Linked DNA regions of Homo sapiens: region 1 is linked to region 2. Evidence: fine-mapped expression QTL. Tissue or cell type: esophagus muscle. Region 2 holds a variant in brackets; the other region holds the start of a gene. All regions are shown on one strand. Distances are between the middles of the regions.

Region 1 (8,183 bases), 38 kb before region 2:
AACAACTAAAGGTTTGAGCAACACCTGCCTATGCCCATCCTAAGACAAAGGCTTAGAAGGAATGGAGGAGAATGGAATGAGAGATGGGAGAAAGAGGAGAATAGGAATAAAGGAAAAAGAAAAAGAAAATAAATACTTTTGTCTCATAAAGAATATCTGTTAATCTGCAAGAGCCATTCGGCAGCTTCCATGACTGCCAAAAGCTACTAAAGATCAAGGAAAACAAAATTATTTTCAGGCCAATAGTCTTTTTCATACATCCAGAAGTAGTGCTACATATCTGACTTTTAGATTGTCATGATCCTAAGTCATCAACTTCCATATTAAGTGGAACAACTCACTTTCCATTCTGTACAAATATTTTAGTTTTTCATCCATAACCATATTAAAGTTTCCTGTTTAATTTACTCCTTCTTCCATTCTGAATTTATTCTTTCCATCCCAAATGTATTATTCTAAAATTTATTTATACTTCCAGACTCTTACAATGCCCAGTTTATTACTTATAATCTTCATTTTCACATTTTCCCCTCCTCATATACACACACACCATCTGCTTATTATTTGAATCTTCATTTCAAGAATTTATAATACTTACAATTCTTTATTTCAAGTAGGTGTGTGTGTTCTAACACACACACACACACACACCAGAGACTTATATCCATCCCCATAGGAAACCCCTACCAACTGCCTCCACCAAATTCACTTTTTTGTCAAACTTCTCAGTATGATATTCAACCAGATGTTCATCCACTGAAGATTAAGAAAGGAAACAACCTTTTCTCAACACCTGATAGAAAGTCAGGTGATATATCTCCAACTCATTTCAAAAAGGACATAATGGACGCATGGTAGAAGTTGTCTACAGTAGTAGTCTAGAGTCAGACAACGTAGGTGGAGCCATGCACTGGCTCCACCAGCGCAATTCTGAGCAGACTACTTTAGCTTCAGTTAATCATTCAGCTTTATTTTCTTCACCTACAGAAATGAGGACTTTAGCCACTTTATAAGGTTATCATTTGAGATAATAATGTAAAGCACTTAGCTTAATGCACATGGTAAGCAAATAAATGTAACTGTTACAGTGTTAGATATAAAATATCTTCCGAATTTGTCATTACCTTAAAAGGAAACTAATTTAGCATAAGCTAGTCTGTTGTTGATGTTGTTTTTGAGATGGAGTCTCACTCTGTTGGCCAGGCTGGAGTGAAGTGGTGGGATCTTGGCTTACTGCAGCCTCCGCCTCCTGGGTTCAAGCGATTCTCCTGCCTCAGCCCCTCCCAAGTAGCTGGGACTACAGGCATGCAACACACACCCGGCTAATTTTTTTATTTTTAGGAGAGATGGGGTTTCACCATGTTGGCCAGGTTTTGAACTCCTGACATCAAGTGATCCACCCGCCACAGCCTCCCAAAGTGTTGGGATTACAGGTGTGAGGCACCGTGCCCAGCCTAGCATACGCTATTCTCTATAAACTTATGTTGACTGCTCCCCCAAGTGAGGTTGCTAGACAGAGGAAAACTTATTCTGTGAGCAGAAGAAACTGGATACTCATGATAGACTATGATGAGCTGTATAGGTCTCTTCAAGTTAACATTCTAAAAAAAAAAGTATCAGACCTTTAGAACTGCAACCCTCAATCAACAAATAATTCACAACCAAATCAGTAAGTTCAAATATGTACTCTAAAACTTACATTAAGCTTGGAAGGATACTAACGTATTCACAAGAGAGAAACAATCATTAAAATATCTCATACAGAATGGAGGGAAAGGGGATGTCAAGATAAGCAACAACATTCCAAAGGACCACACCACTGAAACATCTTGTTTGTTTTTCATAGCAAAGCCAAATCAAATCCTAAGGTACATGCCTCAAGCAAAAAAAATTAAGAAAATGAAAGCAAAATACAACTAGAATTTAAATTTTTTACTCTGAACTGTGCCTAGTTGGTTGGTGATATTTAATACATATTAAAGATAGGCACATCAGTTTGTAAATCCACTGGATCTCCAGAGCATGGACCACAAACAGCTATCCCTAAGAAGAAACCTCAAAACCACAAATCAGGAAATAAAGTGGGCAGCCTCATTTCCTTCTGTAAGTCTAGGAAGGAATTTAGAAACACTAATGTTTTAAAGGAGAGATTTCAATATCAAACTAGAAGAATCCCTGCATTCTCCTTTCCTTGGTCCCAAAGCAAACAATTTACAGTTTGGGAAAACACACACACACACACACACACACACACACACACACCCCTACCTGTTTTCACTAACTTCAACAAGACACTGCCTAAGTGGTGGTTTTAATCTATCAAGAAGCTATATATCTCCTTTGCACAGTTTGGGAAAGCACACACACATACACACCTGTTTTCACTAACTTCAACAAGATACTGCCTAAGTGGAAAACACACACACACATACACACACAAAACCTGTTTTCACTAACTTCAACAAGACACTGCCTAAGTGGTGGTTTTAATCTATCAAGAGGCTGTATATCTCCTTTGAGAATTTGATAAAAACAATGGACACTTTCCCCAGGGGGGAAAAAAATTCACTCAAACAAAACTGCATATAATTTCAGGGGTGGGAATGAGGAAGACCCCTGAAAGTTGTTGACCCTTAGGCCATGAACCCCAAGTCATCATCCAGGATTAAGGCAAATCATAATCCAAGGAAAACCAGTTTATCAATTTGGAAAGAAACTAAAGTAACTGAGGCAGGGATTTAATCCACAAAATACATTAGAAATCTTTTCTCTTTTCTCAGATAAAAGTGTGTTAGACTTGGTAGTTGGGAGAAGACGTGGGTCATGCTAAGCAAGGAAAACAAAACAAAAAACACCACAGGACAAACGAAAGAAAAGCAGAATTAAGGCAGCAGTAAAATATAGTAATCTGTAGCCGCTCTGAGAGAACAGCAATGAAATGGCCAATTCGGCCGGGCGCGGTGGCTCACGCCTGTAATCCCAACACTTTGGGAGGCCGAGGAGGGAGGATCATTTGAGGTCAGGAGTTTGAGACCAGCCTGGCCAACACGGTGAAACCCCGTCTCTACTAAAAATACAAAAATTAGCTAGGCGGTAGTGGCGCCTACCTGTAAACCCAGCTACTCAGAAGGCTGAGACAGGAGAAAAGCTTGAGCCTGGGAGGTGGACGTTGCGGTGAGCCGAGATCGTGCCAATGCACTCCAGCCTGGGCGACAGAGTGAGACTCTGTCTCAAAAAAAAAAAAAAAAAAAGAAAAAAGAAAAGGCCAATTCCTGAAGCCTTAACAGACGGCTGACTTAAGGTAACCATTTCTGGTGCACATTTCTATGCCAATTAAGTTAATTAAATGGCAAACATGAACACACCCTTACAGGTGAAAGTATGAAAGCAAAAGTTTATGCGAAGTTCTGGATCTCTTCCGGCTTTTCCTTATCAAATAATAATGTAGTTAGATGAATTTTATACTTTAGGAGAAAACAGGGTAGGGGCGGGGGACAGAAATCCTAAGAGTGGCCAAAGGATCTGCAGGAAGTATAAAGTGTAAACTTTTTGAAATCAAAGGGCTCAAGAGGAAGGTAAGAACAAAACAAAGGAAGTAATAACAAAATAAAGTAAAAGGGAAAAACGTCTAGCATCTAAAAACTGTTTTTAAAAAATTATTTCCTTTTCCTAGACACGTAAACAGTAGTAACTTGGCAAACAGGAACGGAGCAGAAGACAATCGAACAACTCCCTTTCCAAAACTCCAGCATTCCTTAGTCAGGCTTGGGACATTTCACAGGCAAGACTCCTCTCTGCACCACTGCCAGATGAATCTCTCAGAGGGACTGTCACTATCTCCCTTCCTCCCACTGCGGGAGAGAGGAAGCTGGGGATGCAGGGAGAAGAGGGGAGAAATGAGGGTTGGACAGCAAGCCTGAAGGTGGCCCACTCCGACACTTTGTCAAGAAAGGTCCGGATTCTGGATCCTGCAACTCCTTTTCCCACCCAATGTATGCAAAGCCAAGAGAGTGCCTCCCTGCAAGGGCCGGTCCTACACCTTCACTCGACTGTTTCGGGGGCACACTCAGAGGGACAGAAGGAATGAAGGACAGAAGAAACCAAAGGCATAACACTTGGGCAGATACGGCACAGACTAAGGAGAGGCGTGCCCTGTGAAAGTTCGGAACGGTGAACCCGTAGGCAACGTGCCCGCCCCACCAGCCACCTCAAACCATCTTTCCCCCGCCTTTTCCCAGGCGAGCCAGCTCCGCCCTCACCTTTCTTAGGGTAACTCGGTAGCTTCTAAGTCGAGGCTTATCCTTTCCGCCGCTCTCTGGAATCGCCTCAACCCTGGCAAAAACTGAGCGGAAACGCGACCCGGACCTTTTCCTTCTTCCCCTTCCCCCACGCACCTCGGCTGCTCGGGGGCGGGGAGCAACTGCAGCTGTCACAAATTCACACTGACCAACCGCCGAGGACAGTCGGACCGGCGACCTCTCAACCCAGCCTCCAGAACCAGAACCAAGAGCAGCGAAGCCGGAAGTGAGGAGACCGGAAGTAGCGTTGTCCCTGGCCCTGGACGGCCTCTCTCTCCCTCAATCCGGCCTTGCCCGGCCACGTCTCGGTGGTGTCAGCGCACCTCCCACGAGGATCCCTCCGCCCTTCTCCGGGAGGCGGGCTACGCCCCTCCCTCTGCTGCCCTAGCAACCACATCCGGGACTCCGGCGGTGTCGTTGCCCGGGTAATTTTCTGGCAGCGACCTAATGCGCGCGGGGCCAGAGGCACCGGCTAGAGCTGGGAGCTTGCGGAAGGGCGCCCCTGCCTGGTCTTGAGAGGTCGAAGGTCTCCAGGAGGCCTCCGCCTCCCTCTTTTTCATTCACACACCCTAGCCTCACACGTTAGGAGGACCCCCCCAACAGACCGTGAGCTGGTGCCGGGAGGGTGGAGGTAGATGTACCTCACCTCCACGCTACCACAGAAGAGCGAAAGCTGCTTTCTCAGCCACCGGAGAGCACGAAGAAGGTTATTCCAGTCCCGGGGGGAAGGTGGGGGTGGTAGGGAGAATGCGAAGATAAGGCAGCAGACGGAATGCGGGCGCTGCCTCGCGCTGCCCCCGTGCCTGGGGAGCCCTCTCCCTTCAGAAAGGCTAGACCCCCGGGCCCGGCATCCCTGAGCTCTTACTTGCTCTGGATTTGTGATCGCTTTTTGCTTTTTGCTCGCTCTCTCACAGTAGATTCCTTGATACTTTTCTTTCCGGCTCCTCTTTCTTTTTCCGGATGACCGAGCTCTGCTTTCTTTGCTTGCCCCATTACTTCTTAAATAGATCATTGTTCTGTCACGGAAACTGCTGAACAATTCGCTCTCTCAGAGCCCTTCGTAGTTTCCTAAACGGGGCCCCAACCTGCACTACTCTCCCCATCCCCAGAGCTCAGTGGTGCGAAAGCGTGGCTCCCCCGTGGCGCTAGATAGACCTGAAGTTCATTTACACACTGTACCATACAGTTGGTCCATCACAGAATATCCCTTCGAACTGCTGGACTGCTTTTCCTTTGACAGCTTTGAATGCTCATTTTTACTCCCATTTCACTTGTAGAAATGCGAAGGGTAACTGTGCACACGGCGAGATTTACCCTTCTTTAGACCGTACTTCTCAGCTGCCTTTACTTGTCACAGTAGCTGACAAGATATTTTTAATGACTAATGCCCAAAGGCAGAGCTCTACCTCTACAGATTTCCAGGGAGTTTCAGTGTAGTGAAATATCCCTGGCAGGTATCTTCCCCAGATCTGTGAATAGTAAACACCTATGGCACCATAAATGTTTCCAATGTATAACAATATTGATTGAGCTCTCTAGGATACCACCTCTTAAAAAAATAGTACTGAAATTCCAAAACATAAATCTCTTATCTTAAGTGGTTCTGTCTTAAACAAAAGAAAGGAGCAAATATATATGCCAACCCACTCAAACTGTAACTTCAATTGTTATAGCTTACTGTGGATTTTTCTGTACAAAGCCATCTTGTTGGTTTGGAGACCATTAGTCTTCTCAATTATAAGAAAATAATCCCAATCTAAATTAATTACTGCTGTAATTGTGTAGGAACTGAGCAACTACAGAACTTGCAGCTAAGTACAAGTGTTGTTCCTAGGGTTTCAGAAGGGTGACTTGGAGGAAGTGTACGGTAGGACTCAGCGGTGCTTGAATGATGTGGACAATGAATACTAAATTGTTTTTGCTGGCTGTTATCTTAAAGATTCCTGCTAGCTGTCTCTTGAGTTTGGAGATGCTTAGCTTGACTAAAGTTAGTCTAACTATTAGACTGTCAGACTCTGAAGTGTTTCTTATTTTGGAAAGGTGAAGACTTGCTTTAGTTTGTTCATAGTTTCCTTGGCAGCTGCTGATGGTTTTGATGGAGATTCAGATGGATTTGGAACTAATGCTAACTTCTGCTTGGTGAAGATGCTAACCAAGTTAGATACTCTTCAGTGAATTCTGGTACTGTGTACGATTAATCCTCATCCACAGTATTACGCTGTGCAAGGCTATATATACACAGGATTAATCTTTCCATGATTTCCACTGCCCTGAAGGAAATTAGAATGTAGTCTGGCTCCAAGAAAACACTAGAAACTACTTCAGCTGGTGATGGAAAATAGTGGAATTCTATACATCCTTTGAGACAATGGAAGCAGCAAACCAGCGTTCTTTGGATTGGGGAATATTTTTGGTACTAACTGAAAAACATCATTTTAAGCCTGGCCCTGCTTAGAGGAGACTTGTTTTCTCTTCCCTCTCTCCCTCTCTTCCTTTTTTCCCTCCTTCCTCTTTTTCTTTCCTCCTTTCCTTCTTGTCTCCCTCCCTTCTCCTTCCTTCCTTCTTCCTCTTTTTCTTTCCTCCTTCCCTCCCTCCCTCCCTTCCTTCCTTTTTTCCTTTCTCCCCTCCTTCCTTCCTTTTTTTCTTCCTTCCTTCCTCCCTCCCTCCCTTCTTTTCTTCCTTTCTTCCTTTGCCCTAAAACTTGGGGGACCCTGCCTGCTCATTTTGTTTAGAATAGAAGATTACTACTTTTCTCTGAATTGTCATTTATTTTTAGAGAGGTAAGAAAAAAGGGAATAGCTGCCTTCCATATATACTTATGACATGGAGATTATCTACTCATTTAACTTTGCACTGCTATTGGCTGTTTATTTGGCTTTTGAAAAATCAGGTGCTATTTATTCATTGGGCTTGTGGGGAACTCTAGTAGCCCTGAATGGCATTTGTGGCATACTCAATGAAGTCTAATTCTTTATCCTGGCATTAAAGGCTTACCAAGATCTGGCCTCAATCTTGCAAATGAGCACTCTCTTATATACCTGAAGGAAAAGTGCTAATTTAGCCAACTAATAGAGATAGGTATAAATACCAATATAGACATAGATATGAAACTTTAGTTGCAAAGAAATGTTTAATATGCTTCAAAGTGCATATTTCCCTCTTCCATGCTTTATTGTCTATTCTTATCAGCAGAAATGTTTTCCTATTTTTCCTTACCTGTGATGTACCTATCCATCCTTTACAGTTGAGTTCAGATGCTACTTCTGTCATGAACCCATTATTTATCCTCCCTGTGAGAATTCATTTTTCCCTGTTTTTGGATCTTACAGCCTTTGATTTGAGCCCCCATTTCAGTCTGCTTTATACTACTGTCTTGCATGTTTTCCCATGATAAATAAGATGGTTTTTGGGAAACTGAACTTTGGACTTACTTGATTCTCTTATAACACCAGGAAATTGGCCAATTCTAGTTGAGTTATGGAAATATGTTGTCTGCTGCATACCAGGCAAGTTCAAGAATACCAGCAACTCCTGCTACTTAGGGTAATGGTACAAGTAGGATTAAGTGGATATAGTTGCTATCTATCTGTAGAAGACAATGAGTGAGTGCTGTCTTAAGTTTGGAAAGTAGTTGATTCTCTGCAGAGGGGTATAAACTACTGATGAAAGGAGAGTGACTCATTACTCCTAGAGATTCTGAATGGGAAGAATGCCAGCTTTATGTTTTCTGATACTGATTTTTTTTTTAATAACTTGGTGCAAAAGTAGAACATTATTCTAAGATGACTGTTGTGGAAGAAAAAAAAGGTAGAACATTAGAGTTGTAAAAATGTTTTTAACTATAAAGAGGAAAAAACTGAACTTATTTATAATTCATTTACCTAG
Region 2 (8,183 bases):
TCTCCTTCACCCTCAGTGGCAAGTCCCGCTTTCCTGGGGCAGGAGCAAGTACCCCTCAACCCCTTCTCCTTCACCCTCAGTGGCAAGTCCCGCTTTCCTGGGGCAGGGGCAAGTACCCCTCAACCCCTTCTCCTTCACCCTTAGCAGCAAGTCCCGCTTTTCCTAGGGGGCAAGAACCCCCCAATCGCTTATTTCCACGCCCCAATCTCTTATCTCTGTGCCCCAATCCCTTATTTCCGTGCCCCAACCCTTTCTCTGCTTTTCTGGAGGGGAAGAAACCCCCACCCCTTCTCCGTGTCTCTACTCTTTTCTCTGGGCTTGCCTCCTTCACTATGGGCAAGCTTCCACCTTCCATTCCTCTTTCTTCTCCCTTAGCCTGTATTCTTAAGAACTTAAAACCTCTTCAATTCTCACCTGACCTAAAATCTAAGCGTTTTTCTTCTGCAATGCCGCTTGACCCCAATACAAACTCAACAGTAGTTCCAAATAGCCAGAAAACGGCACTTTCAATTTTTCCATCCTACAAGATCTAAATAATTCTTGTCGTAAAATGGGCAGATGGTCTGAGGTGCCTGACGTCCAGGCATTCTTTTACACATCAGTCCCTTCCTAGTCTCTGTGCCCAGTGCAACTCATCCCAAATCTTCCTTCTTTCCCTCCCGCCTGTCCCCTCAGTACCAACCCCAAGCGTCGCTGAGTCTTTCTAATCTTCCTTTTCTACAGACCCATCTGACCTCTCCCCTCCTCGCCAGGCCGAGCTAGGTCCCAATTCTTCCTCAGCCTCCACTCCTCCACCCTATAATCTTTTTATCGCCTCCCCTCCTCACACCTGCTCCGGCTTACAGTTTCCTTCCGTGACTTAGCCCTCCCCCACCTGCCCAGCAATTTATTCTTAAAAAGGTGGCTGGAGCTAAAGGCATAGTCAAGGTTAATGCTCCTTTTTCTTTATCCCAAATCAGATAGCGTTTAGGCTCTTTTTCATCAAATATAAAAACCCAGCCCAGTTCATGGCTCGTTTGGCAGCAACCCTGAGACACTTTACAGCCCTAGACCCTAAAAGGTCAAAAGGCCGTCTTATTCTCAAAATACATTTTATTACCCAATCTGCTCCCGACATTAAAACTCCAAAAATTAAATTCTGGCCCTCAAACCCCACAACAGGAATTAATCAACCTCGCCTTCAAGGTGTACAATAATAGAAAGCAGCCAGACGGCAACGCATTTCTGAGTTACAATTACTTGCCTCTGCTGTGAGACAAAACCCAGCCACACCTCCTGCATACAAGAACTTCAAAATGCCTAAGCTGCAGCAGTCAAGCATTCCTACAAGACTTCCTCCATCAGGATCCTGCTTCAAGTGCCAGAAATCTGGCCACTGGGCCAAGGAATGCCTGCAGCCCAGGATCCCTCCCAAGCCATGTCCCATCTGTGCAGGGACCCACTGGAAATCAGACTGCCCAGCTTGCCCAGCAGCCACTCCTAGAGCCCCTAAAGCTCTAGCCCAAGGCTCTCTGACTGACTCCTTCCCAGATCTGCTTGGCTTAGCGACTGAAGATTGACGCTGCCCGATCGCCTCGGAAGCCCCCTGGACCATCACGGACACCGAGCTTCAGGTAACTCTCACAGTGGAGGGTAAGTCCATCCCCTGTTTGATCGATACGAGGGCTACCCACTCCACATTGCCTTCTTTTCAAGGGCCTGTTTCCCTTGCCCCCATAACTTTTGTGGGTATTGATGGCCAAGCTTCAAAACCCCTGAAAACTCCTCAACTCTGGTGCCAACTTAGACAATACTCTTTTAAGCACTCCTTTTTAGTTATCCCCACCTGCCCAGTTCCCTTATTAGGCTGAGACACTTTAACTAAATTATCTGCTTCCCTGACTATCCCGGACTACAGCTATATTTCATTGCTGCCCTTCTTCCCAATCCAAAGCCTCCTTTGCGTCCTCCTCTTGTATCCCCCCACCTTAACCCACAAGTATAAGATACCTCTACTCCCTCCTTGGCGACCGATCATGCATCCCTTACCATCTCATTAAAACCTAATCACCCTTACCCCACTCAATGCCAATATCCCATCCCGCAGTACGCTTTAAAAAGATTAAAGTCTGTTATCACTTGCCTGCTACAGCATGGCCTTTTAAAGCCTATAAACTCTCCTTACAATTCCCCCATTTCACCTGTCCTAAAACCAGACAAGCCTTACAAGTTAGTTCAGGATCTGCACCTTATCAACCAAATTGTTTTGCCTATCCACCCCGTGGTGCCAAACCCATATACTCTCCTATCCTCAATACCTGCCTCTATAACCCATTATTCTGTTCTAGATCTCAAACATGCTTTCTTTACTATTCCTTTGCACCCTTAATCCCAGCCTCTCTTCACCTTCACTTGGACTGACCCTGACACCCATCAAGCTCAGCAAATTACCTAGGCTGTACTGCCACAAAGCTTCACAGACAGCCCCCATTACTTCAATCAAGCCCAAATTTCTTCCTCATCTGTTACCTATCTCGGCATAATCTCATAAAAACACACGTGCTCTCCCTGCCAATCGTGTCCAACTGATCTCTCAAACCCCAGCACCTTCTACAAAACAACAACTCCTTTCCTTCCTAGGCATGGTTAGCGTGGTCAGAATTCTTACACGAGAGCCAGGACCACACCCTGTAGCCTTTCTGTCCAAACAACTTGACCTTACTGTTTTAGCCTAGCCCTCATGTCTGCGTGCAGCGGCTGCCACTGCCTTAATACTTTTAGAGGCCCTAAAAATCACAAACTATGCTCAACTCACTCTCTACATTTCTCGTAACTTCCAAAATCTATTTTCTTCCTCATACCTGACGCATATACTTTCTGCTCCCCGGCTCCTTCAGCTGTACTCACTCTTTCAGTCCCACAATTACCATTGTTCCTGGCCCGGACTTCAATCTGGCCTCCCACATTATTCCTCATACCACACCTGACCCCCATGACTGTATCTCTCTGATCCACCTGACATTCACCCCATTTCCCCAAATTTCCTTCTTTCCTGTTCCTCACCCTGATCACGCTTGATTTATTGATGGCAGTTCCACCAGGCCTAATCGCCACACACCAGCAAAGGCAGG[C/T]TATGCTATAGTACAAGCCACTAGCCTGCCTCTCAGAACCTCTCATTTCCTTTCCATCGTGGAAATCTATCCTCAAGGAAATAACTTCTCAGTGTTCCATCTGCTATTCTACTACTCCTCAGGGATTATTCAGGCCCCCTCCCTTCCCTACACATCAAGCTTGAGGATTTGCCCCCACCCAGGACTGGCAAATTAGCTTTACTCAACATGCCCGAGTCAGGAAACTAAAATACCTCTTAGTCCAAATAGACACTTTCACTGAATAAGTAAAGGCCTTTCCTACAGGGTCTGAGAAGGCCACCGCAGTCATTTCTTTCCTTCTGTCAGACATAATTCCTCAGTTTAGCCTTCCCACCTCTATACAGTCTGATAACAGACCAGCCTTTATTAGTCAAATCAGCCAAGCAGTTTTTCAGGCTCTTAGTAGGTTTCAGCGAAACCTTTATATCCTTTACGGTCCTCCATCTTCAAGAAAAATAGAACGGACTAAAGGTCTTTTAAAAACACAGCTCACCAAGCTCAGCCACCAACTTAAAAAGGACTGGACAATACTTTTACCACTTTCGCTTCTACAAGGTACAGCCCATTTAAGCTCCTGTATACATGCTCCTTTTTATTAGGCCCCAGTCTCATTTGACACCAGACCAACTTAGACTGTGCCCCCAAAAAACTTGTCATCCCTACTATCTTTTATCTAGTCATACTCCTATTCACCGTTCTCAACTACTCATATACGCCCTGCTCTTGTTTACACTGCCGGTTTACGCTGTTTCTCCAAGCCATCACAGCTGATATCTCCTGGTGCTATCCCCAAACTGCCACTCTAAACTCTTGAAGTAAATAAATAATCTTTGCTGGCAGGACTATGCTGAATCTCCTTAGGCACTCTCTAATCAGATGTCCTAGGTCCTCCCAATTCTTAGACCTTTTATACCTGTTTTTCTCCTTCTCTTATTCCATTTAGTTCCTCAATTCATCCAAAACCGTATCCAGGCCATCACCAATCATTCTATATGACAAATGTTTCTTCTAACATCCCCACAATATCACCCCTCACCACAAGACCTCCCTTCAGCTTAATCTCTCCCACTCTAGGTTCCCACGCCGCCTCTAATCCCGCTTGAAGCAGCCCTGAGAAACATCGCCCATTCTCTCTCCATACCACCCCCCCAAAATTTTTGCCACTCCAACACTTCAACACTATTTTGTTTTATTTGTCTTATTAATATAAGAAGGCAGGAATGTCAGGCCTCTGAGCCCAGGCCAGGCCATCGCATCCCCTGTGACTTGCACGTATACATCCAGATGGCCTGAAGTAACTGAAGATCCACAAAAGAAGTAAAAACAGCCTTAACTGATGACATTCCACCATTGTGATTTGTTCCTGCCCCACCCTAACTGATCAATGTACTTTGTAATCTCCCCCACCCTTAAGAAGGTTCTTTGTAATTCTCCCCACTCTTGAGAATGTACTTTGTGAGATCCACCCCTGCCCACCAGAGAACAACCCCCTTTGACTGTAATTTTCCATTACCTTCCCAAATCCTATAAAATGGCCCCACCCCTATCTCCCTTCGCTGACTCTCTTTTCGGACTCAGCCCACCTGCACCCAGGTGAAATAAACAGCCATGTTGCTCACACAAAGCCTGTTTGGTGGTCTCTTCACACGGACGCGCATGAAAGTTATTCAATTGCTTTTTTTTTTTTTTTTTTTTTTTTTTTAGACAGGGTCTCACTGTTTGACTCAGGCTAGAGTGCGGTGACACAATCACGGCTCACTGAGGCCTCGACCTCCCAGGCTCAAGCCATCCCCCTGCCTCAGCCTCCCAAGTGCCTGGGACCACAGATGCGTGCCACCAAGCCAGGCTAATTTTTGTATTTTGTGTAGAGACAGGATTTTGCCATGTTGCCCAAGCTGGTCTCAAACTGTGGACTCAAGTGATCGGCCCACCTCAGCCTTCCAAAGTGCCGGGATTACAGGCGTTAGCCACTGCACCCAGCCTCGATTGCTTTAAATGAGAGGGTAGAGAGTTTCCATATGAAGGAAGACCAAGGTCTTTTGACACTTAAGGAGATTGTAATTATCCGGTGACGCTGCTCTCACTACCATTTTTGTTAAATGGTAGTCAATCAGAGTAAAGGCCCATAAAAGAGAAAAAACAATGTTCTGGGCAGAGCAACTATGTCCAGCCAGGTTCAGCTTTCCCTCTGCAGTCATTTTTTTACCCCAGACACAGTCTTTCTATTTGCCTGATCTCTAAATGCCTGGTGGAAAGACAGATGGATAGGAGAGGTGAGTGCTACAGTGGGAATATCTTGCCTATTGACAGCTGTCTGCAGGAAAAATAGAAGGAGGTGTAACTTAATTTGAAAAGACTGTGCTCTTGAAATTTTGGATTTAAATATAAAATGGAATCATATTATACATGCACTTTAGGAATTTATTGTGCAAAGGAAATCTAGGGTATACCTTCTCTTAAGTGCAAATCCTGTTACTTTAAATCAAAACAATACAATTATATTTTAACCAATATGTCCTATAAGCTTGACTTTTAAATGGCAGGTTTTCTTATGGAGAAATACCTTTATACTCTGAAATTTATTTCTGTAATAATTCTGTACTCCAAAGCAATAAAAAAGAAATCACTGAAATATAAAATATATTCAGTGAAAATGTTTAAAAAGCATGGAACCAACAAAAGTTGCCCTTTGTATTTTGTAAGGTAAGAATCTATATTTACTATTTCATAAAAGAAATCATACTTTACATGTAAAAAGTAAAAAGGACATAGCATAAAGGATAGTTGGTAATCTGACAACAGAGAGACACAGATGAAATATATTTTTATAAATATATACATAATTTTTGAGTTTAGAAGAGTTACTATATGAAATCCTATTGCATTGTACATAATTGTTAGTTTGATACACATTTATCAGCTTGTGGTTATATATTCAATAGGACACCACAAAGTAGAGCATCAATGTTCAATTTGTTCTCATATCTTTATCATTCATTATGAAACTCAGTTTCTCAAAGGTTTGTTAGCAAAGATGGAAGTAACACTCTTAATGGCATTTCCCTTCATTTGGAATATTCTATGTAAATGAAAGCAAGTTTCCTGATCGCTCTGATGCTGTCCTTATTCCTTACCGGGCCATGAAGAACTTGGCGGGGGCAGATGGTAGAGCCCAGGTGCCTAGAGCAAGCTCTTACTCAGTAGCTCCTCTTAGCTAAGGCTGAGCAACTGAGGCCCTGGGACTTCAATCGAGAGCCCACAGGGATTGTGGAAAAGATGCCTTGGCCTATGAAAGCTTTCCCTCGGACCAGTGCTGTTTCATTGTTTAGCATTTGGGAACCATTTTCCTACAGCATGTAGATAAAGGTCAAGTTTGCTTCTGATTGTCACCAATCATTAGATAGTTGGCTGTAGTAAAGAATAACAAGGTAATCACAAAGAGTAAATCTATTTCCTATGTTATAAATGCATAATCTCTCTTTTTTGTCTATTTTCTGCATGTGTCACACATTATAGTGGGTTGAATAATGTCCCCCACCCAAATTTATGGCCACCCAAAAGCTCAGAATGTGACCTTATGTGGAAATAGGGATGTAATTTTCTTAGCATATGTAATTAATTGTAATTGGTTGAGGAGCTCAGATGAAATCATCATAGATTAAGAGTGGGCCCTAAATCTAATGACTAGTGTCCTTACAATATAGAGGGCACAAAATCACACAGAGAAGACCATGTGAGGGCCAAGGCAGATACTGGAGTTAGGCTGCCCCAAACCAAGGAATGCCAGGAGCCACCAGAAGCTGGAAGAGACAAGAAAGGGTTCTGCCCCAGAACCTTCTTGGGGAGCATGGCCTTGCCAACACCTTGATTTTGGACTTTGGCCTCCAGAACTCTATGAGAATAAGCTTTTGTTGTTTTAAGTCACGAAGTTATGATTAGGAAATTGAGAAATATCTTTCGCTTTTTATGACTCAATTCTTTTTTCTGCTATATCCTTTGCAAGAATGAGGTCATAAAACTATACAAGAGATTCTTTGTGGAATCTCTCTGTTGAATAAGTAACACTTCTCACTTCACAAACTCCTTTGTGTTGGTCGTATTTCATGATCTTGACTCTCAACTGTTTTTGTTTCTGTTTGTCCCCTTCCTGTGCCCCTAGAAGCACTAGCAGGAGTGTTTTGCAGATGGAGGGGTGCCTTGTCTGCTGTCGTCTTTCCATGTAACACTGAGTAGTCTCAGAACTAATTTAGTGGATTTAGATTTGGAAGAATCCATCATGCTCAGGTCTTTTCCAAGACGGTCAGGTTTCTTGCATTCATCTTCTTACATCAGTGCTCAGGCATTTGCCATTGATATTTATAACTGCTGGCCCATTTCAGAGACTCTCTTTTTTACCAAGACAATGTCCTCTTATTTGGCAGCTCCTCCCTGGCCCCTGCATATCTGCTCTGGTGCCTTAGTAATAATCCTCTACTAAATTCAAGGCTGAAAGCAGACTCCCACGGCCTTTTTCTAAACAGCTCACATCATAATCTAATCAGTCCAGAAAGTTCAGAAACATTTATTGTGCACCAGGTAAGGGCCTGACACTGTATCAGGGGTTCTTGTATGTGTATCATCATGTATACACCAAACAGGAAAGAGAGAAACTCCTTAGTCTTCATTTCCAGCCCTCTGGCTCTCCCCAAATACTGGTCTTCTTTCTCCTAAGTCCCCCCAGGGTACCACTGCACCATAGGCAGGGTTGTTACTTTGCTCTAACACCTAGAGTTTCTCCTGCTAATGTGTGAATGAAGGGAAAGATACTTTCTCTGCTGTTCCTGAACCCTATTTTTGCCTTTTGGGTAATAATGCAGAGGGGAAGGGTAAAACCGACTGTGCAGCAGATACCTCTTAAAGGCTCCTGTCCTGGGCTACCCTCTGTTCCCAAGCACCTGACCTACTGCAGAGCATCTCCTCCTCTCTGTCCCCCATGCCAATTTCCAAAGGGAGCCTGCCAAAGGGCTGAGTGCAATCATCACCGAGCAGGGACCCCACAAGTTGCTGGACTAT

The links. PIP is the estimated chance that this variant, and not a neighbour inherited with it, causes the effect.
Region 1: it holds the start of ARFIP1, and the variant in region 2 is fine-mapped to the expression of ARFIP1 in esophagus muscle (GTEx, PIP above 0.99).

What each region holds. Positions count from the first base shown.
Region 1 is chr4:152,776,303-152,784,485 of GRCh38, reverse strand. It overlaps ARFIP1 (ARF interacting protein 1), which reads right to left and starts at 4,532. Exons shown (of 9, transcript NM_001025595.3): 1 at 4,260-4,532. It overlaps TIGD4 (tigger transposable element derived 4), which reads left to right and starts at 4,756. Exons shown (of 2, transcript NM_145720.4): 1 at 4,756-5,004. RefSeq lists enhancers at 4,255-4,304, 4,495-4,654, 5,105-5,314.
Region 2 is chr4:152,737,965-152,746,147 of GRCh38, reverse strand. No RefSeq gene overlaps it. Among named protein-coding and RNA genes, the nearest start is that of TIGD4, 38 kb to the left of the region's middle. RefSeq lists an enhancer at 4,930-5,430. The variant C/T (reference allele first, on the strand shown) is at 3,111.